7 linked regions of the Homo sapiens genome follow. The protein of the gene in region 1 purifies or fractionates together with the protein of each later gene. This does not show direct contact. Each region holds a gene or a part of one and is shown in the gene's direction. Other genes may lie near its edges.

What was found.
Region 2: the proteins of HP (region 1) and FGB purify together in Homo sapiens (affinity purification with mass spectrometry, with the first as the bait; one large-scale study listed by BioGRID). This does not show direct contact.
Region 3: the proteins of HP (region 1) and CP purify together in Homo sapiens (affinity purification with mass spectrometry, with the first as the bait; one large-scale study listed by BioGRID). This does not show direct contact.
Region 4: the proteins of HP (region 1) and TF purify together in Homo sapiens (affinity purification with mass spectrometry, with the first as the bait; one large-scale study listed by BioGRID). This does not show direct contact.
Region 5: the proteins of HP (region 1) and ANGPTL7 purify together in Homo sapiens (co-immunoprecipitation; one large-scale study listed by IntAct). This does not show direct contact.
Region 6: the proteins of HP (region 1) and PRKACB purify together in Homo sapiens (affinity purification with mass spectrometry, with the first as the bait; one large-scale study listed by BioGRID). This does not show direct contact.
Region 7: the proteins of HP (region 1) and HPX purify together in Homo sapiens (affinity purification with mass spectrometry, with the first as the bait; one large-scale study listed by BioGRID). This does not show direct contact.

The regions. Positions count from the first base shown.
Region 1 is NC_000016.10:72,053,021-72,057,304, forward strand, and holds the start of HP (haptoglobin isoform 1 preproprotein), read left to right. Parts: upstream 1-1,484; 5' UTR 1,485-1,632; coding exon 1,633-1,637; intron 1,638-3,140; coding exon 3,141-3,223; intron 3,224-3,509; coding exon 3,510-3,611; intron 3,612-4,284. UniProt on the Homo sapiens protein: As a result of hemolysis, hemoglobin is found to accumulate in the kidney and is secreted in the urine. Haptoglobin captures, and combines with free plasma hemoglobin to allow hepatic recycling of heme iron and to prevent kidney damage.
Region 2 is NC_000004.12:154,569,511-154,573,010, forward strand, and holds the end of FGB (fibrinogen beta chain isoform 1 preproprotein), read left to right. Parts: intron 1-3; coding exon 4-289; intron 290-908; coding exon 909-1,140; 3' UTR 1,141-3,297; downstream 3,298-3,500. UniProt on the Homo sapiens protein: Cleaved by the protease thrombin to yield monomers which, together with fibrinogen alpha (FGA) and fibrinogen gamma (FGG), polymerize to form an insoluble fibrin matrix. Fibrin has a major function in hemostasis as one of the primary components of blood clots.
Region 3 is NC_000003.12:149,180,330-149,183,829, reverse strand, and holds part of CP (ceruloplasmin precursor), read left to right. Parts: intron 1-224; coding exon 225-364; intron 365-1,696; coding exon 1,697-1,825; intron 1,826-3,500. UniProt on the Homo sapiens protein: Multifunctional blue, copper-binding (6-7 atoms per molecule) glycoprotein. It has ferroxidase activity oxidizing Fe(2+) to Fe(3+) without releasing radical oxygen species. It is involved in iron transport across the cell membrane.
Region 4 is NC_000003.12:133,791,393-133,794,266, forward strand, and holds part of TF (serotransferrin isoform 1 precursor), read left to right. Parts: 3' UTR 1-2,874. UniProt on the Homo sapiens protein: Transferrins are iron binding transport proteins which can bind two Fe(3+) ions in association with the binding of an anion, usually bicarbonate.
Region 5 is NC_000001.11:11,187,991-11,192,154, forward strand, and holds the start of ANGPTL7 (angiopoietin-related protein 7 precursor), read left to right. Parts: upstream 1-1,364; 5' UTR 1,365-1,589; coding exon 1,590-1,965; intron 1,966-4,164. UniProt on the Homo sapiens protein: Has a role in the formation and organization of the extracellular matrix.
Region 6 is NC_000001.11:84,196,271-84,199,770, forward strand, and holds part of PRKACB (cAMP-dependent protein kinase catalytic subunit beta), read left to right. Parts: intron 1-345; coding exon 346-472; intron 473-1,458; coding exon 1,459-1,554; intron 1,555-3,500. UniProt on the Homo sapiens protein: Mediates cAMP-dependent signaling triggered by receptor binding to GPCRs.
Region 7 is NC_000011.10:6,430,988-6,434,487, reverse strand, and holds the end of HPX (hemopexin precursor), read left to right. Parts: intron 1-2,470; coding exon 2,471-2,601; intron 2,602-2,684; coding exon 2,685-2,847; intron 2,848-3,017; coding exon 3,018-3,277; 3' UTR 3,278-3,439; downstream 3,440-3,500. UniProt on the Homo sapiens protein: Binds heme and transports it to the liver for breakdown and iron recovery, after which the free hemopexin returns to the circulation.

The DNA.
Region 1 (4,284 bases):
ATGTATATTTTTTGGAGAAATGTCTATTTAAATCCTTTGCCCATGCTTTAATTGTTTGTCTTTTTGTTGTTGTAGTTAGGATATGCTCTGGATAACAACCCTTTATCAGATATAGAATTTGCAAATATTTTCTCCCATTCTGTAGACTGTCTTCACTTTTTTTTTTGAGACAGAGTCTTGTTCTGTCACCCAGGCTGGAGTGCAGTGGTGCGATCTAGGCTCACTGCAACCTCTGCCTCCCAGGTTCAAGCAATTCTCCTGCCTCAGCCTCCGAGTAGCTGGGATTAAAGCATGCGCCACCATGCCTGGCTAATTTTTGTATTTTTAGTAGAGATGGAATTTCACCACATTGGTCAGGCTGGTCTCAAACTCCTGACCTCATGATCCGCCCACCTCAGCCTCCCGAAGTGCTGGGATTACAGGCGTGAGCCACCACGCCTGGCCTGTCTTCATTTTATTAATACTGTCTTTTGATACACAAATGTTCATTCCGATGAAGCCCAATTTATCTAATTTTTCTTTGATTGCTGGTGATTTTGGTGTCATTATCTAAGAATCCATTGCCAAGTTTTACTTGGTTTTGATCTCTAGAAGACTGCCATCATACTGAAGGTAATCTTCTGAAACTTGCGGTTTTCTTTCAAAAATTATGTTTATAAGATGATCCATGTTCTTGCAGAGTTTATTCATTTTATGCTGTATAATATTCCATTATATCCACATACAATGCAGTATTGACCCTTCCTCCTGTTGATGGGCATTTGTCTTGTTTCTAGTTACTTTGCTATTATATCAGTGTCACCATGATTATCCAAAAGTAATTCTTTTGTACACTCTAATTTAAGAACAACTAACCCTTTTTAATGAATAAATCAACCTTGTATTGAGTTGCTACTAAGTTTCAGTTGACTAGTACCTGGGATACACACAGGTGCAGACATTTGACTGAGACATATTGATTTTTCTCATCTGCCTATTTAGGCTAATCACCAGACTATAAAACCATGAGAACCACTGCCATTGAGTATAGTCTGTGTCAGTCTACACTATAGCTTTAACTAGTTGTGTGATTTCTTGCAAAGAGCAATCAGAGAAGACACAATAAACACATTTACTGATTTCAGGCTGGAGAGCTTTTAAGCAATAGGGAGATGGCCACACACAAGGTGGAGAAAATTACTGTGAAAAGGAAGTACTTTCTTTAGAGCCCCACCTAAGCTAGGCTGCAGAAATGTCTACAATGGGTTTGAAAAAACTCAAAATGAGCCTTTCTGCAGTGTGAAAATCCTCCAAGATAAAGAGACAGATTGATGGTTCCTGCCGCCGCCCTGTCCTGCCCAGTTGCTGATTTCAGGAAATACTTTGGCAGGTTTGTGGGTCATAGAGTTGCCAGGTTTCTTGGGATTTGTAATAGAACATCACAAGAAAATCAAGTGTGAAGCAAGAGCTCAACTCTTAACAGGGGTATTGTTTGTGGTTTTGTTACTGGAAAAGATAGTGACCTTACCAGGGCCAAAGTTTGTAGACACAGGAATTACGAAATGGAGAAGGGGGAGAAGTGAGCTAGTGGCAGCATAAAAAGACCAGCAGATGCCCCACAGCACTGCTCTTCCAGAGGCAAGACCAACCAAGATGAGGTGGGTCCACAGCTTTCCCTCCTGCCTTTCCTCTGGTTCTTTATTTCAGTCTTTTTTGCATACATCGGTAGAGATGCAGAAATAGAACAAAGAAACGGGCAAATGGGCTAAATTATAGTGAACCAAAGGGCTTAGTGTGTTAAATCTTCTCCTTTTCTGCATCCATAGAAGACAGTGCTGCTGTCTTTCCCAGGAGATAAGATTTACTCTCAGGAGTGTCTTTTTCCTTCAGGTTACATTTTTGACTTTATAGGGTATGTCATCAGCTCCCGTGGTAGGCTTCCTGGCATCCTGAGTATATTTATTAGCAGATATTTTCCTCTTTAAAAATGTACAATAAGGAAGACTAATAGTAACACATTTGAATGACACAATTAATTGACTAGTACCTGGGATACACACTAATACCTGGGATACATCTAATTAAGGCACTTAGATCTTATAAAAATAAACACTTTTTGAAATGTTGAAATAATAAGACTAGAAACTTTTTTTTTTTTTGAGATGGAGTCTCGCTTTGTCACCAGGCTGCAGTGCAGTGGCATGATCTCGGCTCACTGCAACCTCCACCTCCCAGGTTCAAGTGATTCTCCTGCCTCAGCCTCCCAGGTAGCTGGGACTACAGGCGTGCGCCACTATGCCCACCTAATTTTTGTATTTTTAGTAGAGACGGGCTTTCACCATGTTGGCCAGGATGACCTCGATCTCTTGACCTCGTGATCTGCCTGCCTTGGCCTCCCAAAGTGCTGGGATTACAGGCATGAGCCACCGTGTCTGGCCTAGAAACTATTTTAATAGAAGCAAGTAGTGCCCGAATGGTTGGCATTTGTTAGTGAGATGGTGAACTGGCAGACGGCACCTGTGGGTCAATGCCCATGGCCACCGTCCTGCTTTTGGACACCAGTTCTCTTCCAGGTAACCTTCTGGCATTTTGGGGTTTCAGATACCATTTCCTAAAGGTGAATTATTATAAAATACTAGAAATACCCACGTGTTTAAAATTATATATTTAAGGAACCTTTTATTACGGAAAATATCAAGAAGTAGAGGAATAGCACAGTAAGCCCAAAGTTCCCATCTCTGAGTTATCTACATTTTATTACCACTATCTTTGCGGTGTCTGAGGGAGGTTTCTCTTTCCTGGAGGGCTCCTGTATTATTGCCAATGTACTTTCCTGAATGCAGCCAGAAACTGAGCCCACCCCTCCACCTATGTGCCTTTCTATCCCTCTCTGAAGCTTCTGCAGAATTCCCAGCAGGACAGGGCTTGCTGGAAGCTTGGTATGCTCAGAAGCTGCTAAAGTGTGTATGGGCAGGTGTGGGGGCAATTTCTTGGTCCTAGCACTTCCATATATCGACTTTCTTTTCTGGCTGCTAAGTGGGAGGAGTGTGTGTGTATGCATGTGTGTGTGTGTGTGTGTACATGCATGTGTGTGTGGATGCATGCATGTGCTGTGAAGCAGGGAGACTAGCTTTCCACTCCTCCTTGTCTTCTCTCTGCAGTGCCCTGGGAGCTGTCATTGCCCTCCTGCTCTGGGGACAGCTTTTTGCAGTGGACTCAGGCAATGATGTCACGGATATCGCAGGTCAGTCTTTGGTTGGGTAGGAGTGTGCATCCCACTCTGACCCTCTCGGGTCTGCACTCTCTCTGAGAACACCCAATTCCCCCTTCTTATCTCGACCTCTGGGCTTTCAGGACCATAAAGAACATTGGGGTTCCTGCCAGAAATGAGGGGAGCTTGCCTTTCCATTGGCTTCTATTCGGGGTGGAAGGAGATTGATGTGCAGAGCAGCTCCCGCTCATCTGACTTTTCACGGTTCACTGGGAACAATTTCCAAATAGCAAACTCTCTGGCTTCTCTCTCTTTGCAGATGACGGCTGCCCGAAGCCCCCCGAGATTGCACATGGCTATGTGGAGCACTCGGTTCGCTACCAGTGTAAGAACTACTACAAACTGCGCACAGAAGGAGATGGTAAGATGTGGACAACTGTCTCCATGCCCTACATACAACCCCCTTCTCTGACATTTCCATGATGGGTGGTGCTGAGGTGATTCGCCAGAAAGTTCGTTGCTCTCCTTGGAGCCAGGAGATTTAGATTCTAATAAGCGTTTTGTCGCCAGTAGCCATGGCCCTTTGGGCAGACTAACTTTTGTCAGCCTCAAGTTTTCTGTTTTGTTAAGGGGAGGCGATGCCATGCAGCCTACCTCATGTAAATCTCAGAGTCACATTTACATCTCCAGCAGATGTGGGAAAAGAAGGAATGCTGATGATGATGTCACCCTCACCTAGTGAGTCTTGCTGTCCTGGCACTGCTCTAAGGGCTTTATACTTATTTGCTCACTTAGTCCTCACAGTATCCCTCTGAACAGAGTTTATTGTTTTCACTTTGCTGATAAGGAAACTGAGGCACAGACAGGTTGAGTATCTTGCCCAAATTCAGGCAGCCTGTAAGAGGCAGAGTCAGGATTTGAACCCTGAGCCCTCCCTGTACTGCTTGGCTGTGACCGCCATGACCACAGTGTGTTCTGCTGGGCTTAACTGGTGTCCAGGCACTTGGCTTCCAGCACAGCACTCTTTCCCTTCCTCCTTCTCATATTCTCTCTCCTTTCTCCCTTCCTGTCTGCCTCCTTTCTTCTTCTTCTTT
Region 2 (3,500 bases), on another chromosome or scaffold:
TAGGTGAATATTGGCTTGGAAATGATAAAATTAGCCAGCTTACCAGGATGGGACCCACAGAACTTTTGATAGAAATGGAGGACTGGAAAGGAGACAAAGTAAAGGCTCACTATGGAGGATTCACTGTACAGAATGAAGCCAACAAATACCAGATCTCAGTGAACAAATACAGAGGAACAGCCGGTAATGCCCTCATGGATGGAGCATCTCAGCTGATGGGAGAAAACAGGACCATGACCATTCACAACGGCATGTTCTTCAGCACGTATGACAGAGACAATGACGGCTGGTATGTGTGGCACTCTTTGCTCCTGCTTTAAAAATCACACTAATATCATTACTCAGAATCATTAACAATATTTTTAATAGCTACCACTTCCTGGGCACTTACTGTCAGCCACTGTCCTAAGCTCTTTATGCATCACTCGAAAGCATTTCAACTATAAGGTAGACATTCTTATTCTCATTTTACAGATGAGATTTAGAGAGATTACGTGATTTGTCCAATGTCACACAACTACCCAGAGATAAAACTAGAATTTGAGCACAGTTACTTTCTGAATAATGAGCATTTAGATAAATACCTATATCTCTATATTCTAAAGTGTGTGTGAAAACTTTCATTTTCATTTCCAGGGTTCTCTGATACTAAGGGTTGTAAAAGCTATTATTCCAGTATAAAGTAACAAACACAGTCCCTAGATGGATTGGCCACAAAGGCCCAGTTATCTCTCTTTCTTGCTATAGGGCACAGGAGGTCTTTGGTGTATTAGTGTGACTCTATGTATAGCACCCAAAGGAAAGACTACTGTGCACACGAGTGTAGCAGTCTTTTATGGGTAATCTGCAAAACGTAACTTGACCACCGTAGTTCTGTTTCTAATAACGCCAAACACATTTTCTTTCAGGTTAACATCAGATCCCAGAAAACAGTGTTCTAAAGAAGACGGTGGTGGATGGTGGTATAATAGATGTCATGCAGCCAATCCAAACGGCAGATACTACTGGGGTGGACAGTACACCTGGGACATGGCAAAGCATGGCACAGATGATGGTGTAGTATGGATGAATTGGAAGGGGTCATGGTACTCAATGAGGAAGATGAGTATGAAGATCAGGCCCTTCTTCCCACAGCAATAGTCCCCAATACGTAGATTTTTGCTCTTCTGTATGTGACAACATTTTTGTACATTATGTTATTGGAATTTTCTTTCATACATTATATTCCTCTAAAACTCTCAAGCAGACGTGAGTGTGACTTTTTGAAAAAAGTATAGGATAAATTACATTAAAATAGCACATGATTTTCTTTTGTTTTCTTCATTTCTCTTGCTCACCAAGAAGTAACAAAAGTATAGTTTTGACAGAGTTGGTGTTCATAATTTCAGTTCTAGTTGATTGCGAGAATTTTCAAATAAGGAAGAGGGGTCTTTTATCCTTGTCGTAGGAAAACCATGACGGAAAGGAAAAACTGATGTTTAAAAGTCCACTTTTAAAACTATATTTATTTATGTAGGATCTGTCAAAGAAAACTTCCAAAAAGATTTATTAATTAAACCAGACTCTGTTGCAATAAGTTAATGTTTTCTTGTTTTGTAATCCACACATTCAATGAGTTAGGCTTTGCACTTGTAAGGAAGGAGAAGCGTTCACAACCTCAAATAGCTAATAAACCGGTCTTGAATATTTGAAGATTTAAAATCTGACTCTAGGACGGGCACGGTGGCTCACGACTATAATCCCAACACTTTGGGAGGCTGAGGCGGGCGGTCACAAGGTCAGGAGTTCAAGACCAGCCTGACCAATATGGTGAAACCCCATCTCTACTAAAAATACAAAAATTAGCCAGGCGTGGTGGCAGGTGCCTGTAGTCCCAGCTACCTGTGAGGTGGAGATTGCATTGAGCCAAGATCTCAACACTGCACTCCAGCCTGGGCAACAGCGTGAGACTCCACCTCAAAAAAAAAAAAAAAAGAATCTGACTATATACCATGGAAAAGCCACCACTCTGCCACTTAAATAAACATCAGGATCAGAGATTCCAAGAGGACAATCTGCATCAAGTCTTCACCAAGTGTTTTTTAAGCGAAATAATGAAATAGGGAGCAGAATATGCCTGTTGCCCATAGAAACGAGGTCTATTCTTGTCCTCAATTAGGCTTTTTTTTCTTCATAGTTACACCAGAACTAAAGTAAAAGTGGTTTTTCTGTTCTTTCTACTTCTCCCCATGAAATGGGCATATCATCTCAACACTTCACTCCAAGTCGCCACGGGCAACCTTATGACCCTAGGTCCTCCACCCCTAATGTATCATCATTGCCACCCATTTTTATGGTACTTATTGTTCTTAAGCTTATCCTCTTAATCTTTTCATGTAAGCAAAGCTCATTAATTTCTGTCTTGGAAATGCTACTACTCTCTTTAATTACTCACCAAATCCAACTTTAACTTTTGACCTGGTTTCTCTGCCACAAGTTCTGTCCCACTGGAGCCCATACTCACCTACCGCTTTGCCATCACATTTAACAGAAAACTCTTATCAACTTACTTCCTGCTTAACATTAGCTCCTTCCTATCTATATCCAAATTTCTTAAATTCAAATTTTTTAGCTGGAGTAAAAATGGTCCCAGTACCATTTCCTGTTCCCTTCACTATAACCTACATTTTTGTCACATTAAGTTTTTCCCCATTCCAGGACAGGTCAGGCCCTTTAAAAATTTCAACAGCTTTATTGAGATATAATTGATATAATTTAAAAAATCCTGCACATGTGTCATGCTGGAGCCCTATTGATTCCAACAGGGATGGCGCCTTGTCCAAGAAGAGACCCAGAGCCAGTGAATGGGACATAGGGTTTATTTAGGACTTAAATACAGATGTGGTCCAGTGGCAGTGGGCTGGACAGGACCGCTACTATTTGTAAAGAGTATGTAGTTTATATAACATTTCTACTTAGCACTCTCCACTTAGCAACCTCCATTTAACCCAAAATAAAAGGCCTTGGTTCCTTGCACATCCTGAGTTCCAACGGACAGGCAGGGAGTTCAAGTGTCCTTCACAGATAAGAAGTGAATCTCTCTGGGTTGGCCATTCCCGGATTCCTTAGCTTAGACTCTGAACACATATTCTTCTTAGACCATACAGTCATTCTCAGGGTATGCTTGAGTTAATGCTGTCGGATGCATCTGTCATACAAAGTGTTTAACATATACGATTTCATGATTTTGGAAATATGCATACACCCATGATATCACTGGCACAGTCAAGATATTAAATATATCCATCACCTCCAAAAGTTTCCTTGTGTTCATTTATTTTAGTTTTTCATGGTAAGAACATTTAATATGAAATATTATCAACAAATTTTTAAGTGCACAATACTGTATTATTAATTTTAGGCATTATGTTGTACAGTAGATCTCTAGAACATATTCATCTACTAAAAATGAAATTTTATCTCCATTTCCCCCTACCTCCCATCCCCTGGCAACTACCATT
Region 3 (3,500 bases), on another chromosome or scaffold:
GAGGCCAGGACTCAGATGGCTGCACTCAGATGGCTAGGTATGCTTTCTACCACACAGACTTTTAAAGTCTTATTATGCATTCCTACTTGGATAGAAGAGTGATGATTTAAAACTACTATAATTACTCTAATAAAAACTATATTTTTATTCAAAATTTAAAGTTTAAAACTTAAGTTACATTTTCATTAAGACAAATACTAACCTTAGTTGTTTTTTTTTTTAAGTGTTTCAAATGCATTTTTAGATAAGGGAGAGTTTTACATAGGCTCAAAGTACAAGAAAGTTGTGTATCGGCAGTATACTGATAGCACATTCCGTGTTCCAGTGGAGAGAAAAGCTGAAGAAGAACATCTGGGAATTCTAGGTATGTTAATATCTCCAGTTTATCAGGTGTGGGTTAATGATGTGATGCTACCTGCAGTAACCGTCAATTCATGTCTATGGGTTTCATTTTCTTGGTTCATATATCAAAGTTGTTCAAATAAAAATTTAAAAATTAGTTATCTAATGAAATAAGACTGATGTTTATTAAATAATATGACATAGTAAAATATTACTTATTTCTCTTGGAAACTATGTATTGTCCCGTATACTGATGAAATTATATATATTTTATCAAATTGATGCCTGTAGTTTTAGTGAAGTTCCCAGAAACTATTTTCTAATGAAATTCTGTTTTTTGACAGAGTCTCACTCTGTCGCCCAGGATGGTGTGTAGTGGTGTGATTTCAGCTCACTGCAACCTGCCGCTCCTGTGCTCAAGTGAGTCTCCCACCTTAGCCTCCCAAGTAGCTGGGACTACAGGGATGGGCCACCACGCCTGGCTAATTTTTGTATTTTTAGTAGAGATGAGGTTTCACCATGTTGGCCAGGCTGGTCTCAAACTCCTGGCCTCAAGTGATCCGCCCACCTCAGCCTTCCAAAGTGCTGGGATTACAGGCGTGAGGCACTACACCTGGCCCTAATAAAATTCTTAACCAATTTATCCCCATTATCCTACCCATTCCTCTCAAATTACAGCTATTTACTTTTAAAATTAAAATATAAATGATTAATTACAAGAAGAAATATACAAAAGGAAATTAATTACAACAGGAAATAAAAGAAAAAATGATACCACGCACAAAGCAGGGGCAAAGCTGCCTTCAATTTTTTAGGACTCACTTTAAGACAGAATGTCTAGAACTCGAGCAACACTGGTCTTGAGACATTTCTTTAAAACTATCAATTGCAGGGACCCCCACTCCCATCCCCACCCCACTGTGTTCCCATACTGTCAGCATTCCCCTGAGGCTTGGTTATCCTCAACCCCTAGACTAAGACACCAAGGCAAAATGGCATTGTTGCTGGAGCACAAAAATCCTACCAGACAAGAGACAAGCTAAGATTGGATAAAGGGTAGAAATGAGAGGGGTATAAATGACTCCTGGCCAGATATCCAACCCACCATGATTAGACCGGTACTCTGCAAAGGACTTTCAGGCCAAACCTCCCCTAGAACTCTTAAGAGATAAACAAATGGTCTCCATTTTTATTTCCAGTGTATTGATTCCAAATTCCCTGGGACGCAGTATAAATCCAAGAGTATTATACCACAAACCCATGGGGGAGAGAAACAAGTTATCTTTGCTGATCTTTGCTTTTATTACTAAGTTAGACCTTCTGATTGGACACTCTTCCTCTTCACTTTTGCCAGGTCCACAACTTCATGCAGATGTTGGAGACAAAGTCAAAATTATCTTTAAAAACATGGCCACAAGGCCCTACTCAATACATGCCCATGGGGTACAAACAGAGAGTTCTACAGTTACTCCAACATTACCAGGTACTCACGGGGGCGGGGGTGGGGGTGGTGCATTTTAACAGGCTGTACAGCCTTTCCACAGATTACTCTCATCATAGAGAGTCTGGACCAAGAAAGTGAAAAGGGAGGTAGTTGTGAAGAGGGGATGCAAGGAGGTGTCTGTGTGTATGCAAGTACATGCACATGCTTGTACTAAAAAAAAAAGTCCACAGGAGAGCTTAAGAGAAAAACCTGAAGGTAGTAGACATCTATGAATCCTCAAGCGTGAATCAGAGAGATGCTGTCTCCTCGCTCAGCTAGAACACAGCTCAAATGGCATCTACCACACCATATGTGGCTGGATGTTCCCATGCCTGTCTCTAGCACATGTGGTTCTAAGGGCCAGAGGCTGCCACTTGGAACTCTAAATTCCCCCTATCTAGTACAGTATCTGGCATATATTAGGAGATCATCAAATGTTTCTTTAATAAACATAGAGTAAAATCTTGAACAGATTATATACATAGGTGAGCATTTTCTTTAATAAGAACCATATTTTTCTTCTATTAGTTGTAAAGTTGGCTTCCAGGAAAATACTATTTCTCAATAACTTAGCAGGGTGTAGCAAGGGTGCTATTTTAGGTAGAGAGGTCAGGAGGGCTTCCTTGAGGAGGTGGCATTGCTGAAAACACCTAAAGTTTGAGAAGTAATGAAATTCAGGTAATTGTGCACGAATTGATTCTAGGCCCCGAAGACAGGAGCAATGCCTGGTGTGTGTGAGCAGCAGCAAGGCAGCCAGAGGCTAAAGAAAAGCACACAAGGGACAGAATGCTAGAGATGAGATCCAGGGAGAGCAGGGGCCAGATGGAGTAGGGAGGACCTCAGACTCGAGATTTAAGACTGATGTTCTGATGGACACCTTTTAAGGGGCTGTTGGTGATGTGTGGTTAAGTGACCCTAAGGGGGCAAGGACAGAATCTGGGGTCAGTTAAGGACCACTGCAATAATCTGGGTAAAATCATCATCATCATCATCATCATCGAGATTTGGAATATGGTGGAAGCGGCTGAAGTGGTGAGATGTTATCATATTCTGGTTCCATTTTAAAGGTGGTACTAAAAGGACCTGCTGGAAAATGGGCACTAGGGAGTGTTAGGGAAGAGAGGAGTCAAGCATGACCCCAAGGTTTTGGGCACTGACCACTGGTGGAAGAGCAGGTTGTAAAGGGGTGTGGAAAAGAGAAGAAAATGTTATTTTGCAGCTTATGAGAATAAGTAAAAGCAGAGATGGCCAGACAGTAATATGTGCAGGTGGTGAATCAATACTTTATATTCTAGTGAAATTTTCTGCTTAGAAAAAGGGTGAGGACATAGGAACAGCTCAGACTGAGGCTTGAAGAAAAAGTAAGACGTCTACCACATCACTTGAGACCATCTCTGTTGTCTTGCTTGATTCTCTAGTGAATGTCTGTTGGACTCTGGCAGGTTAGTGTGATAGCATGAATATGTAATGGTGTGGTCTAAATAAATGGGATGGAAAATGAGTGTGGCTGGGATTGGTGAGTGGGCATGGCCAAAAGTTGAGGCCTGTGAGCAGTTGCACAGGAAGCCCTGAGGTGAATGGAAACGCAGATCAGACTGGAGAAAAGCCTAGAGCACATGGGAAAAGGGTAAGAGCCTTGGCAAAGCAGGAGGGTGAAGCAACTGGTCGTCTTCAA
Region 4 (2,874 bases), on another chromosome or scaffold:
GGCTGCTTTGGGAGACAGAACCCAGAAACCTGGCATACTGGCAAAAGGGTAAGAATTTCTTACCAGCCAGACTCTGGTCTCTGTCTCTCTGTGCAAACTGCATAAATGAATAGTAAAAGTCACTGTTTATCTCCTCTGTAAAGTTTTGATTAATATAAAAAAAGAATTCTGAGGCCGATCTTAAGCTGTAGTGAATCTGGTGTGCTTTGTGTCTTTCTGTATTGTTTTGTCATAAAGAGGGGTACCTTAGAATAAAATGTGTGCTTAGGACCCCATAGACCTGCTGTTCAAGACACACCAGCAGACTGGTCAGTCATGTCTTTGGGAGCTTGACCTTGTAACCATGTGGCCATGCTTTCTCTTTTCACAGTGGCAGCCTGGGTTTAGGGTTCAATTCCTGGCTTAGGGAATGAGTCCTTTATCTTCTGTCTGTGTATTTATATGTGTTGTGTGTGTACTATAAAAGAGCATTAATTAATTAGCTTAATAATAATAAGAGCTTAAATCAAATATTTTATCAGAAAAGTAAAAAATGTAATGCCTTCTATTTACTTCATGTAACTTAAGTAATCTTTGGGAAATAAAGACAGTTTTAAAGATTATTGGTAAAATAAAAATATCTTCAAAATGTAAATATTTAGTCTAAATTATGCAGGTCAGATATTAGATTTGCAAAATGCTTTAAGGTCATAAACCGCTTCTTTGACTTTTAAAAATTGCTCAATTTATTTTGGAGCATTAGATTCTAGATAAGGCCTGGGGACAAATAGAATTAGCCATGTCCCCTAGCTATGCAAAGAAGGTTATAAAGAAAGGAGATTTTATATAAGAAAGGATCTTATATCGTAAATTCGTGTCCTAAAGTAAAATAAGCGGTTGTTAAAAAAGAGGGATGTTTAGGACAAGTTAGAAAGTCAAAGCATGTCGTAGATGGTCTGTGTAAGTCATGAAATAATTTACAAAAGAGAATTTATGCAAGAAATATACAATTTAACGGTGATTAGACCTCCTAAATGCTTCATAAAATGCCACTATGACTCTTAACTCTACAACTTGCCTGCTTTACAGCTCGGTAAGGCCTGAGACACGTGGAGTCAGATGCTGGAGTCAGACCTTAAGTGTACTTCTCTCTGGGTCCTAGACTCCACAACTAATATATAATTAAAATCCTTAACTTACCAAAGTTTTCACCAAAAGTAAAACTCGCTAAGAGTTAACATTGTAACATGTAAGTGAGACTACTGAAGCAACAGTTTTACATGCAAGTTACGTAAGAAAAGTGAATGCATTTTCAGTGAAAGATTATAACAAGGCATGGGAATGTAGATTTTTTTTTCTGTCTAAAGGGTTAAAGGATTGTTTTAAGTTAGGATAAAGCTAAAAGTTTGAATGAGTTGTGGAAGATTTATAAAAATTAATATTGTAAAAAATTATGTGTGTGAACATATTGACTAAATTTAAAGGGGTATTTTCTGGTTTTTCCATAAATTGAACATCAAAATAAAAGCACAAACAGGGTTTTCTTAAAGCACCGATCTGCTCTTTAACAAACATTTGTAAAGGATTATAAAAGGTTTATGAGAATCTCACCTTATGGTCAAACGGATTAAGATTGGAAAGATATGTCTACAAGGTTTTCTTAAAAATTGGGGTTGACATTAATAGCACACTAATGCAAGGGTGAAATTTGGCTTTCTCTCTTGAACAAGATTTTCATGCAGTATTAAAAGATAATGAAAGATCTTTGTTTGCCTTTTGAATAAACTACCCCCCCACCAAAAAAAAGGAAGGGAAAGACAAGAGACAGATTGTTTGTAAAGTAAGTCTTCCATCTATCAACATGGAAAGGTTTTTGCCTTTTAAAACATTTTTGAGTCATCATTTTGCTAAATGAATGACTATGGTAACCTGGAATTCCATTTCATAATGTCAAGTGTTTTAAATCTTTAACATATTTAATAGGCTTCCCAAAATCAAATTTCAGCTTCAAAATTGTCTTTTCTAACCTCTAACTTTGAGATGCTGCAGAGGGCCCCTGAAGCATCCAAAAGAGAGGTAAACAGAATTATTTGACATGTTTAATTACATGGGAAGCATTGTCAAAAAGAAAAAAATTTAATCTTCTTCAGGTTATATTTTAGTGAATAATATTAATATATGTTCCAAAATTGTATGAGATTTCTAAAATTCCAATATGTCTGAGTATATGCTATCAATCATAATTATGATTATTATGTTATTGTAGACCACAGAAATAACCAAATTTCCTTGTCAATTGTGTTTTTAACTATAACTATTTAAAGTCATTTCCACAGTTAATTGCTTAATGCTGATGCAGTTTCTGAAAACTTCACAAGCATGCAAAGTCCTAGAATATGGTGTCTTTTAGGAGATTCATGAAAGATTGGAAAGGACCCTAAAAAGCACTCTTGAATACAGGTTTCTAATAAGTTTAGAATTATATCATTTGAACTGGGTAAGAATTCCTGGAACTTTAATGAAAAGACTGACTGAGTTCTAAAACTGCTAACCCAAGTAGAACAAAAATTAATTAAATACCAAGAAAATACTTTGCCAGATTTTCATGCTAAATCAGCTGATACTGAAACTGTTTAGATATAAAATTTGAATAAACTCCATCATTTAAATCAAATTACCTATGATAACCCATCAGTTATCAGTGTTATGCACCTAATTTGGGGAAACAACTGGTATTCAAGAGGATATGAGTCTAATGTTAATTAAGCATGAACTCATGGAGAACCAGGATGGCCACCTTGTCCTTCCTAAGTCGTTAAAGCTTTTGTTAGTAAAATTTCTGCATTACATGACTCGTCACGGAAAAGATAAAATGATCCAAATTGAATATATTGA
Region 5 (4,164 bases), on another chromosome or scaffold:
AAATTGTTCAGTAACTCCAGCTGCCTGAACAGAAATTACTTTCTGAGGAGCTAGAAGCCCTGACTGGAAAAGAGCTCTGGGGGATTATGGCATGGGAGGAGAGCTGTCAGGCATCAGGCTTATGTGGGAAGGACCCACGCTGACTACAACAGTACAAGTAACTGCCTGAGTGGCTCCATAACATGGAAACAGCAATCGTATGTTCCAAAGACAGAGTTACTGTTTTAAGGACAGAGGAACCTTTGTATAGATTCTTAGTGAAAAGCTTATTTTAAGGATGTTTGCTGAAACTCCATGTTTTTCACATTTCTTTTCAAAAGAGCATTGTCCTTCATATATAGTACATGAAAAATTACAATATTCATGTTTTTTAGATACAAAGTCATATACAAATAGAGGAGGAATAATTTCAAATTGCAAACCATACCAGCAAAGAAAGAGGGAAATGAGACTCTAGATATGGATTTATTAGGTGACAGGGATTCTTTTCTCTATATTTTAATATATTTTCCAAGTTTTGAACCACGGGCTAAGGATGGGCCTGTTCTCTGTCCTGCCTAGAAACTGACAGAAGCATGGGTGACCAATCCCAGACATGCTTGGCACTGCTGAGTTTTCATCTCTGTTGTAATCTTCTGACACCTCCTTGCAAAATATCAAGTGTTATATGCTAATACTGGCCCTCTCTTTGTTGAAGGAGAAAGCATGTAAAAAGACAACTGTCCAAACCCTGTGGCTACAAAGTCTTTTTTTGGCTTCCTAAGAGATTTACTCTATTCTTCTATTTCTAGAACTTTTCTAAGTTGGAAGATTTCAAATGTGAGATAGTGTTAGATCCAGGTTGAGTAAGGATTTTATAAAATACTAAATAATGATCAGAGATGGGAATAATCAGCCTAGATAAAAGCATATTCAGCAGGATGTCAAAATATACCAGATCCTCATATAAACAGCATGGATTACATTAACAGGCCTCCCTGGGTGAGTAGCGTCTCTTTCGCCTACCTTACGCTCACCCCATGGTTATATAACCTTTTGAACGGAATTTGGAAATTCTTCTGACCCTGTCCTGCTTGCTGATAGAGTTGAGCCAGTGGCTGGCAGGGGCATAATCTAATAGGCGAAACTGGAAACACACAAATTCACAGTCCTCTTGTCTTAGCCCAGAGACTGTACAGGCAAGGAAAGAAAGACTCGCCCCATCTCCCTCCTCCCCTCCTCTGGCCTAAGTTGCCGCTGACTTCACCCAACAGGCACCTGACCCTCCCAGATGAGCTGGGAGGGGCTAAAGCCTGGTGCAGCCATGGTAGGGGTGGAGGTACAGGCAGCAAACAATATTTAAGATGCTGACTTGTGGAGCATTCGGGCTTGGAAGGAAAGCTATAGGCTACCCATTCAGCTCCCCTGTCAGAGACTCAAGCTTTGAGAAAGGCTAGCAAAGAGCAAGGAAAGAGAGAAAACAACAAAGTGGCGAGGCCCTCAGAGTGAAAGCGTAAGGTTCAGTCAGCCTGCTGCAGCTTTGCAGACCTCAGCTGGGCATCTCCAGACTCCCCTGAAGGAAGAGCCTTCCTCACCCAAACCCACAAAAGATGCTGAAAAAGCCTCTCTCAGCTGTGACCTGGCTCTGCATTTTCATCGTGGCCTTTGTCAGCCACCCAGCGTGGCTGCAGAAGCTCTCTAAGCACAAGACACCAGCACAGCCACAGCTCAAAGCGGCCAACTGCTGTGAGGAGGTGAAGGAGCTCAAGGCCCAAGTTGCCAACCTTAGCAGCCTGCTGAGTGAACTGAACAAGAAGCAGGAGAGGGACTGGGTCAGCGTGGTCATGCAGGTGATGGAGCTGGAGAGCAACAGCAAGCGCATGGAGTCGCGGCTCACAGATGCTGAGAGCAAGTACTCCGAGATGAACAACCAAATTGACATCATGCAGCTGCAGGCAGCACAGACGGTCACTCAGACCTCCGCAGGTAAGGAGACCAGTCCCCTGAGGGAGCGTGGAGTGCCTCCCCATCTACAGCACTGCTTCTACATATCCTGGTCATCAGAACCACTACTGGGGCCTCTTTTGTGGGTACACTTTCCCTTTAGTAAAGGCTTATGCAGTATTTCCTTTGACTTCTAATGCTATGTAAGTTTACCTAACACCTTCACGGGTCTCTTTTATCCACACAGTGTTTCAGCCTACCATCTTGGAGTGCTGAGATACTACATGGTTTGCCCAAAGTCACCCAGCAAGTCTTAGAAGCAGGGTTCAAGTCTTCCTGATTGGTGTAGCTCTGCTACTTCCTCACCAAGAGCTGACAGGCTATATCTCAAGAAATTCCAAGGAAGCACCAAACTGTAACAGCTGTTCCTCTGGAAGCAAAGTTTTGCCAGAAACAGTTCTCTGGTGTTCCTAAGATTTACCAGGAATGAGCATTAATGGAATTTTGTGTCCTCTCTCTGTAAACGTAACTCTTCTCATTGGCTCAGAGTTAAGTGTAGAGACACATAACCATGTGAAGAGTCCCTTTGTGTTCAGGAAGGATGCGGCTCCTTAAGGTTCCTCAATTGTGATACGTCTATTTTTTTCCATGGTCTTAAATGAATTTCTCCGAATACAGGATTTTTTAAATGCAATGCTGAAATATAGACTTAATAGGCCAAAAATAAGATAAATTTAATCTTTCTTTTGCAAAATAACTTTTATTTCTGGTTAGCTCAGCTCAGGTGGGCCAACATGAATTTACGGTTTAGAGATAAAAATTTGGTTTTCTGAAATTATCAGGAAAATATTAGTTGTAAGGAGCATATCCTATAGACATGTCATTTCTTGCTGATATAAAAACCATTGGTCCCATTATAAACTACATGAAGAACAAAGACATGATCAGCTTCTACTGACTAAGTCAATGGTTAACCTCAGCTCAAATTAAGAAAAAGTTTTAACATGAAACCAAGCTTGAAAATTCTGTTACCTGAACCAACATGTATCAATCACTTTCTAAGCATGGACTTCCGGGCCCTCAGTTTGGGATTAGAAAGGTATTCTCAGGCCATTTTCCAGACAAGTGAGTCCTGATTTGGTCTGTGAGATGAAACCAGACATGCGGAAGACCAGGCCAGACAGAGGAATCTGACCGTGCCACTTCCTGCTCATCCAAACAGGAGGCTTTCTCACCATCCTGCAAGGAGGTTCTTGGGGTCAAGTGCAGCTCTCCCACCAGGTCTCTTGCTCTTCTTGCCCAGGACATCATTCCTTATTTTTCTTCTCTATGACCAAGTGCTCAGTTACCCTTATATTCTATAAGTAGGTAGTCCCTTAGAGGAAGCAGTAAGTTGGTGCTTTCACCACTAAGACGAAATGAAGAATAGTGATGGCGAAGGCACACGTACTCTACCTCCCTTTCCCAAGGTGCTCTGCAAGAGAACCTATGTGCCTCAGACAACTCCCATCTGCCATCTTGGTGCTCCTCTCTAAGGTCCCAGTGCAGTGGTCACCAAGAAAAGCACCCCGAGACATAGCAGGCAGGAAGCTTCTCTTGGATAGTAAGGGCCGCAGTCTCTGAATCCTATCAGAAAAGGCTGTCTCTTCCACTATGCTCTTTGATATTTAGAATACAGAGCTTAAATCCTGCATAAAGTAGCAGCTCCATGGCCCTAGAGTAAAAAAACTGGCCAGTCTGATGCTCTCATTTCATTGTTTTAACAAAACTTCTGGGAGGAAGGCCTCAAAGGTTCTTCTGAGTGTTTTGAGGTGCTAGCTGGATGGAAGGGGAAAATATGTGATAATAAAATCTATCTCCCTTAATTATGGTCTCAGGTGGCAGTAGCCACCATCTCTGAACAACAACAAAAACAACCAACCAGGAAACATCAACAAAACCAGACTCTATGAGATATTCACGACTGATTTGTTATAGTGGCGGCTGTCTAAGAAGTCTGAATCTATCTGACAGGAGTATCTGTTACGTGGCCCTCATACACTGTAACATTTCTAGAATTCATGGCCCAGCTATAGCAGAATAATTTATTTCAGAGTTAACCTGAAACCACCTGTTGGAACGTCCCACTAATGCTATCCAGGTGAAGGGCTTCCCTACCCCTCTGCTCCACCGCTAGTAAAGCCAAAATACACCCCCTCTGGATCTCCCCATATCCACCTCTCCCAAATGCAGACACTGATG
Region 6 (3,500 bases), on another chromosome or scaffold:
TCCATTTGGCACATTTGCTTTCCAATTATTCTCAAGATCAGACATAATTAGAAAGACATCAATATATTTAAATATGGGCAATAATGATTCACAATGAGCTAACTATTTTAGGTTTATATTTTTCCTCAACATATGCTTCCCCATAAATTTATCAGAGCGTTATTTGAACAAAATATAGAGATTTAATAAATATTTGAAAAGTAACAAGGTTCTTTACATACTTTTTAAAAAAATACTTTTTGTTCCCAAAGTACCTCTACTTCATATTAGTTTTTATGCATAATCTACTAATTAGAATGTATTAACTCATTTTTACAGAAAATCAATGGTTTTATTTCTTTGCAGTGAGCCCCATGCACGGTTCTATGCAGCTCAGATAGTGCTAACATTCGAGTACCTCCATTCACTAGACCTCATCTACAGAGATCTAAAACCTGAAAATCTCTTAATTGACCATCAAGGCTATATCCAGGTATGACTTTAACACATTATGTGTACTGTATATGAGAAAATACTAGGCAAGACATTGTATGTATGTAACCCCAACTTGGAATTTTTTTTGAAGAAGACACTTTCTCCTAATAGTTTAAGTAGAGCTCAGAGTTTTGCTGCTATTACAGAGAAGCAAAAATCCTGTTATGAAAGGAACTTGTTTATATCTCCATTAATCTATAGTTGTGAACTGAGTATAGCCTCTTGCATAAGGAGATATTAATAGCTAAATCTATGAGCAGTTATTAGTGCCAGGCATATTCCACTTGTTTTACATGTATTATTTCTTTAATCCTGATAAACCTATGAAGTGGAAATACCATTGTTATCTTCATTTTAAGATTAACAAAACTAAGACATAGCAAGGTCATTTAGCCAATAAATGGTAGAGTCAGAATTTGAACCTAGGCAGTCTGATCCCAGAGTCCATGCCCTTTACGACTACAATATAACTGCCAAAGAATCCCTGACTACCAATACTGAACTCGTAGCAACGTTTTCTTTCCACTTCTACTACTAATAAAGTGGGAGCATTTCTTTTTACACAATTATTGATAGATTCTCCCATTGACGTTTTTACACTTCTGATGGTGCAACTAATGGCAGAGGACACATTGGGGTAAGGCAGACATTTAGCATTGTTTCATTTTTATTAATGCTATTTATTTTTACCTTTTATTTTCACTTTTTTATTCCTTGGGTCTAGGATCTTATAATAATGACTGAAAAGAGTTTTGTTGTTATTAATTTGTTCCTTTTCTTTGAGTTGAGGAAGGATTTCCAACTTGGATTGTTTAAACTTTCATTCACTAGATATTCATGAATGAATTTCAATTACGTGGACTTAATTTTTTTTCCATTTCTTTCATAGTTTCAATTTGAATTTTAAACTTTCAACGTAGGTGCAATAAATACATTTATTGTGAGGTAATACATTTTCACTAGTATTCTTTTTTTCTTTTATAGGTCACAGACTTTGGGTTTGCCAAAAGAGTTAAAGGCAGAACTTGGACATTATGTGGAACTCCAGAGTATTTGGCTCCAGAAATAATTCTCAGCAAGGTATATTCATAATATCAACACATAAGAAGTAGAAATATGAGACATGCATCCCTATGGACTTTTGTAAAAACAGTTTATTGATCTAATTTTACATTTTTAATTTGATCTAAGTTATGAATTTAAATCTATTTGTGCATGATTACTAAAGAATTATTATTTAGCATCTACCACTAATCCTGTAACCTCTGTCAATTTTAACTCTGGGTCTTAGAGATATAATATGAATAAATATGACCTCTAGATCCATGTTTTGCAACCAAAAACATAGTCTTTTCTTAATTATTCCTAGTAACGGAAGGGTAGAGAAGACTTGCTCTGGATTATACCAAGAGGTAAATCTAGAGATGATATGTACTAGTTGTCCATTCTTTCTTTGTTTCAAATTTACCAGTTAAATAAAAGGAATGTATGAGAAGTGTTTTTAAATTTTAAATAGGACTATTAACAGCAATTGAATAGTTTTAGTCTTATTGAAGGCAGCTCTGCTTTTCTAAATAGTGAAACGTGGTGAGAGAAACTGTACCTATATCCAAAAGAATGGTTAACTTTTCCTCTGCCATCACTTGGTGGAGAAATCTAGAAAGGAGAACCTAACAATAACCAGGCACAAATAGGAGAGAGGAAAAGGAAGGGGATAAGACACATGCTTCACTGGTTCCCAAATGGAATCATTGAAATATGGCTAACTTATAGAAGTGTTAAAATAAAAGATTTCTTTCAACTTTTCTCTCATTATCTTTCATAATTTAAATAATATGTAACTTCTTGATATTTTATAATCTAAATATCATTGTAGTTAACACATTTCTTTAAATACAGTTAACAAATAATGGGACAACAAAATGAGCACTAAAACTTTTACAAATGTGTATATATTGTAAAAGTAATACTCATTATACAAAATTTAGAAAATACAGAAAAACATAAACAAACAACCAAAAAAAAACCTATATGTAATCCCACCAACCTAGACGCAGCCTTTTTAAAAACATTCATATATGTATGTACATATATGTATATATGTGTATATGTGTATATATATACACCACATATATGTGTATATATGTGTATATATATACACATATGTGTGGTGTGTGTGTATATATGTATATGTGTATATATACATATATATTCATATATATGTGTATACGCATATATGTATATATGTATATGTGTATATATACATATATGCGTATATATACACATATATACGCATATGTATGCATATATATATGCGTATATATGCATATATGTATATATATGCGTATATATGCATATATGTATATATATGCATATATATATATATATACACACACATTTTAGCTTTATTTTAGCTTTCATTTTAGGTTCAGGGATACATGTGAAGGTTGGTTACAGACGTAAACTCATGTCATGGGGGTTTGTTATACAGATTATTTCATCACTCAGGAATTAAGCCCAGTACCCATAGTTATCTTTTCTTATCCTCTCCCTCCTCCCTACCTCCACCCTCAAGTAGAATCCAGTATCTGTTTTTTCCTTCTTTGTCTTCATAAATTCTCATCATTTAGCTCCCACTTACAAGTGAAAACATGTGGTATTTGGTTTTCTGTTCTGCATTAGTTTGCTGAGGATGATAGCCTCCAGCTCCATCCATGTTCATGCAAAAGACATGATCTCATTCCTTTTTATAGCTGCATAGTATTCCGTAGTGTATATGTACCACATTTTCTTTGTCTAGTCTACAATTGGTGGACATGTAGGTTGATTCCATGTCTTTGCTTTTGTGAATAGTGCCACAATGAATAAACAAATGCATGTGTCTTTATGATGAAATGATTTATAATCCTCTGGGTGTATACCCAGTAGTGGGATTGCTGGGTCGAATGGTAGTTCTGCTTTTAGCTCTTTGAGGAATCTCCATACTGCTTTCCACAATGGTTGAACTAATTTACACTCCTACCAAC
Region 7 (3,500 bases), on another chromosome or scaffold:
TGTGGTGGCATGCACCAGTAGTCCCAGCTGTTCAGGAGGCTGAGGTGGGAGGATTGCTCGAGTGTGGGAGGCAGAGATTGCAGTGAACCGTGACTGTGCCTCTGCAATCCAGCCTGGGTGACAGATTGAGACCCTGTCTCAAAAAACAAATAAATAAAATAAAATAAATATGGTTCCTGAGCAGGGTAATTTCAGTGGGAAACCTCCCAGGGGAGGTGGATATGTCAGTCACCGCTGTATACTCAGTACACGGCTAATAAGAGAACTTGTGGTAGCAGCAAGAACACTAGGTATTTACTCAACAAATATTTGTTGAGCATCTGATAAGAAGTGGGCATTGTCCTAGGCACTGAGATACAGTAGTCAACATGGCAGACAAGATGCCTGCCCTGACAGGCTCTGCTAAAGTGAGAGAGGACAATAAGAAAGAGAAAGGAAGAAAGAGAATAATTTTAGGTAATATTAAGGGTTGTAAAGAAAATAAGACAGGATAGTGGGATAGAGGTGAGGAGAATGAGGGCTGTCTTCTGAAGAAATGATTTTTGAGCTGAGACTTCAGTGATGAGAAGGAATTAACCACACGATGTGCTGGAGGAAAAGCATTTTAGGGAGGGTGAGCAGCACATACTTCAAGGAATCAAGAAGGAAGCCTGGTGAGGCTGGAACACAGAGAAAGAGCAGGTGGGTGACTTGAAAGGGCAGGGACGGCAGTGGCCAGGTTACCTAGACCTGGTAAGGGTTTTCAACCATAAAAGGGAGTCATCAGAAAGTCTTGAGCAGGGCTGTGATATATTCTAACTCATTTTTTATAAAAGATCACTCTGACTTTTTGCAGAACATAAGTTATAAAAGTACAAGCATGTAAGCAAGGAATCCAGCTAGCAATCCGTGCAGTTGTCCAAATTAGAGGTGATGACCGCTTGGACTAGGATGATAGCAGCAGAGGTGGTGAGGAATCACCATGATATATTTTGGAGGTAGAGCTGACAGCATTAACTAATAGCTAAGATAGGCCGGGTGTGGTGGCTTACGCCTGTAATCCTAGCACTTTGGGAGGCCAAGGCGAGTGGATCACCTGAGGTCAGGAGTTCGAGACCAGCTTGACCAACATGGTGAAACCTCGTCTCTACTAAAAATACAAAATTAGCTGGGAATGGTGGCACATGCCTGTAATCTCAGCCTACTTGGGAGGCTGAGGCAGGAGAATCGCTTGAACCTGGGAGGTGAATGTTGCAGTGAGCCGAGATTGCACCATTGCACTCCAGCCTGGGGAACAAGAGTGAAACTCCGTCTCTAAATAAATGAATGAATGAATGATATCAGTCAGAGTAGGGAAGGGAAAAGAGGCTTCAAGAATGACTCAGCTTTCGTGGACTCAGCAACTGAGTGGCTGGTGGTTTTGTTTTCTAAAATTGGGAAAGACTAGGGAGTGTGTGTGTTGGTGGGGGGCAGAAATCAGTTTGGGCATATTAGGTTTTGGGTGCCTATTGGCACCCCATAAGCATGTCAGGTAGGCAGCTGATTTGGAGCCTAAACCTCAAAGGAGAGGTCAGTCAGAGCTGACGAGAACAGATTGGAAGTCATCAGCATATAGATGGCATTTAAAGCCCCTGGACTAGGTGAGATTACCAAGGAAGTGAAGGTAGAGAGAGAAGAGAAGAGGCCCAAAGTAGGGGATTCCAATATTTAGATATCAGGTTGAAGAAAAGAGTAGTCAAAAAAGATAAGAGGAATACTGGGAGAGTCAGGTGTCACAGAAGCCAAGTTCCAAAAAAAGACATTTAAAGGAGAAGGAAGTAGTGAGCAGTCCAGTGCTCCTGAGAGGTAGGGTCAGATGAGAACAGAGAATTGACCATGAGATTTCGCAAATTGGAGAATACTAGCAACCTGGATAAGAACAATTTCAATGGTTGAGGGAAACAGAAGTGTAATTGAAGAGGATTGAGGAAAAAAGACAAATGGGAGCCTAGATAATTCCTTAATAAGTTGTTGTGAAAAGAGGAGAAGAAAAACGGGGTGCTAGCCCAGCTACTCCCTCACTCTTCCACCACCTCATAGGGAGAGACTGGAGAACACAGCCAGAGTGAGAACATTCAGTAGAAGTGGTGCTTCCTTTTTAAGTTCTGGACACTGTATTTCATTATCTATAACCGCATCTCTGTACATGGACACCTGAAATCCTTAGGGAGTGCCCGCCAACCCCATGATGTTGGCCTTACCTGGAAACTTAGCCACTGTTTTCCACACTTGCCTTTCTTTCAGGCACCTGCTGATTCCAGTTTCAGCCAGGGCACAGTGCCCAACATTGCTGACCAAGTCTTGCTCTATTTCTCCTTCTCACCTGGCCTCTTCCATCTTGGCCTCTGGATGCATTCTCTCCCTCTCATGACTCATTTCTGCATTCATCACTAGCCTCTTCTCTGCCTGGGCTTCTGCCAGCGGCCCTAGAGCAACCTATGGTATTCCACAGGGACCCACTACTGGCGTCTGGACACCAGCCGGGATGGCTGGCATAGCTGGCCCATTGCTCATCAGTGGCCCCAGGGTCCTTCAGCAGTGGATGCTGCCTTTTCCTGGGAAGAAAAACTCTATCTGGTCCAGGTGTGTATTGGGGGAGAGGCTTGAGGTAGAGACTGGGACAAGCATATCCAACTCTGTATTTATTACCATCCTTTGTCCTCCAGGGCACCCAGGTATATGTCTTCCTGACAAAGGGAGGCTATACCCTAGTAAGCGGTTATCCGAAGCGGCTGGAGAAGGAAGTCGGGACCCCTCATGGGATTATCCTGGACTCTGTGGATGCGGCCTTTATCTGCCCTGGGTCTTCTCGGCTCCATATCATGGCAGGTGAGGGGCTTCTGGGTGCTTAGAGGGCAGCTTGTTCTGCTACCTGTCTGTGGCATAGATCCCCACCAGGGCATGAGAAGGCCTAGGTCAGGATCCCCAGGGCATGAGAAGGCCTAGGTCAGGATCCCCATGACATGGAAGCCATGCTATGTTTGGTGCCTTCTCCCCAGGACGGCGGCTGTGGTGGCTGGACCTGAAGTCAGGAGCCCAAGCCACGTGGACAGAGCTTCCTTGGCCCCATGAGAAGGTAGACGGAGCCTTGTGTATGGAAAAGTCCCTTGGCCCTAACTCATGTTCCGCCAATGGTCCCGGCTTGTACCTCATCCATGGTCCCAATTTGTACTGCTACAGTGATGTGGAGAAACTGAATGCAGCCAAGGCCCTTCCGCAACCCCAGAATGTGACCAGTCTCCTGGGCTGCACTCACTGAGGGGCCTTCTGACATGAGTCTGGCCTGGCCCCACCTCCTAGTTCCTCATAATAAAGACAGATTGCTTCTTCGCTTCTCACTGAGGGGCCTTCTGACATGAGTCTGGCCTGGCCCCACCTCCCCAGTTTCTCATAATAAAGACAGATTGCTTCTTCACTTGAATCAAGGGACCTTGGTCGTGAAACAATCTTCTTTCTTTGAGTTGAAAAGTTAGCACTTCTCC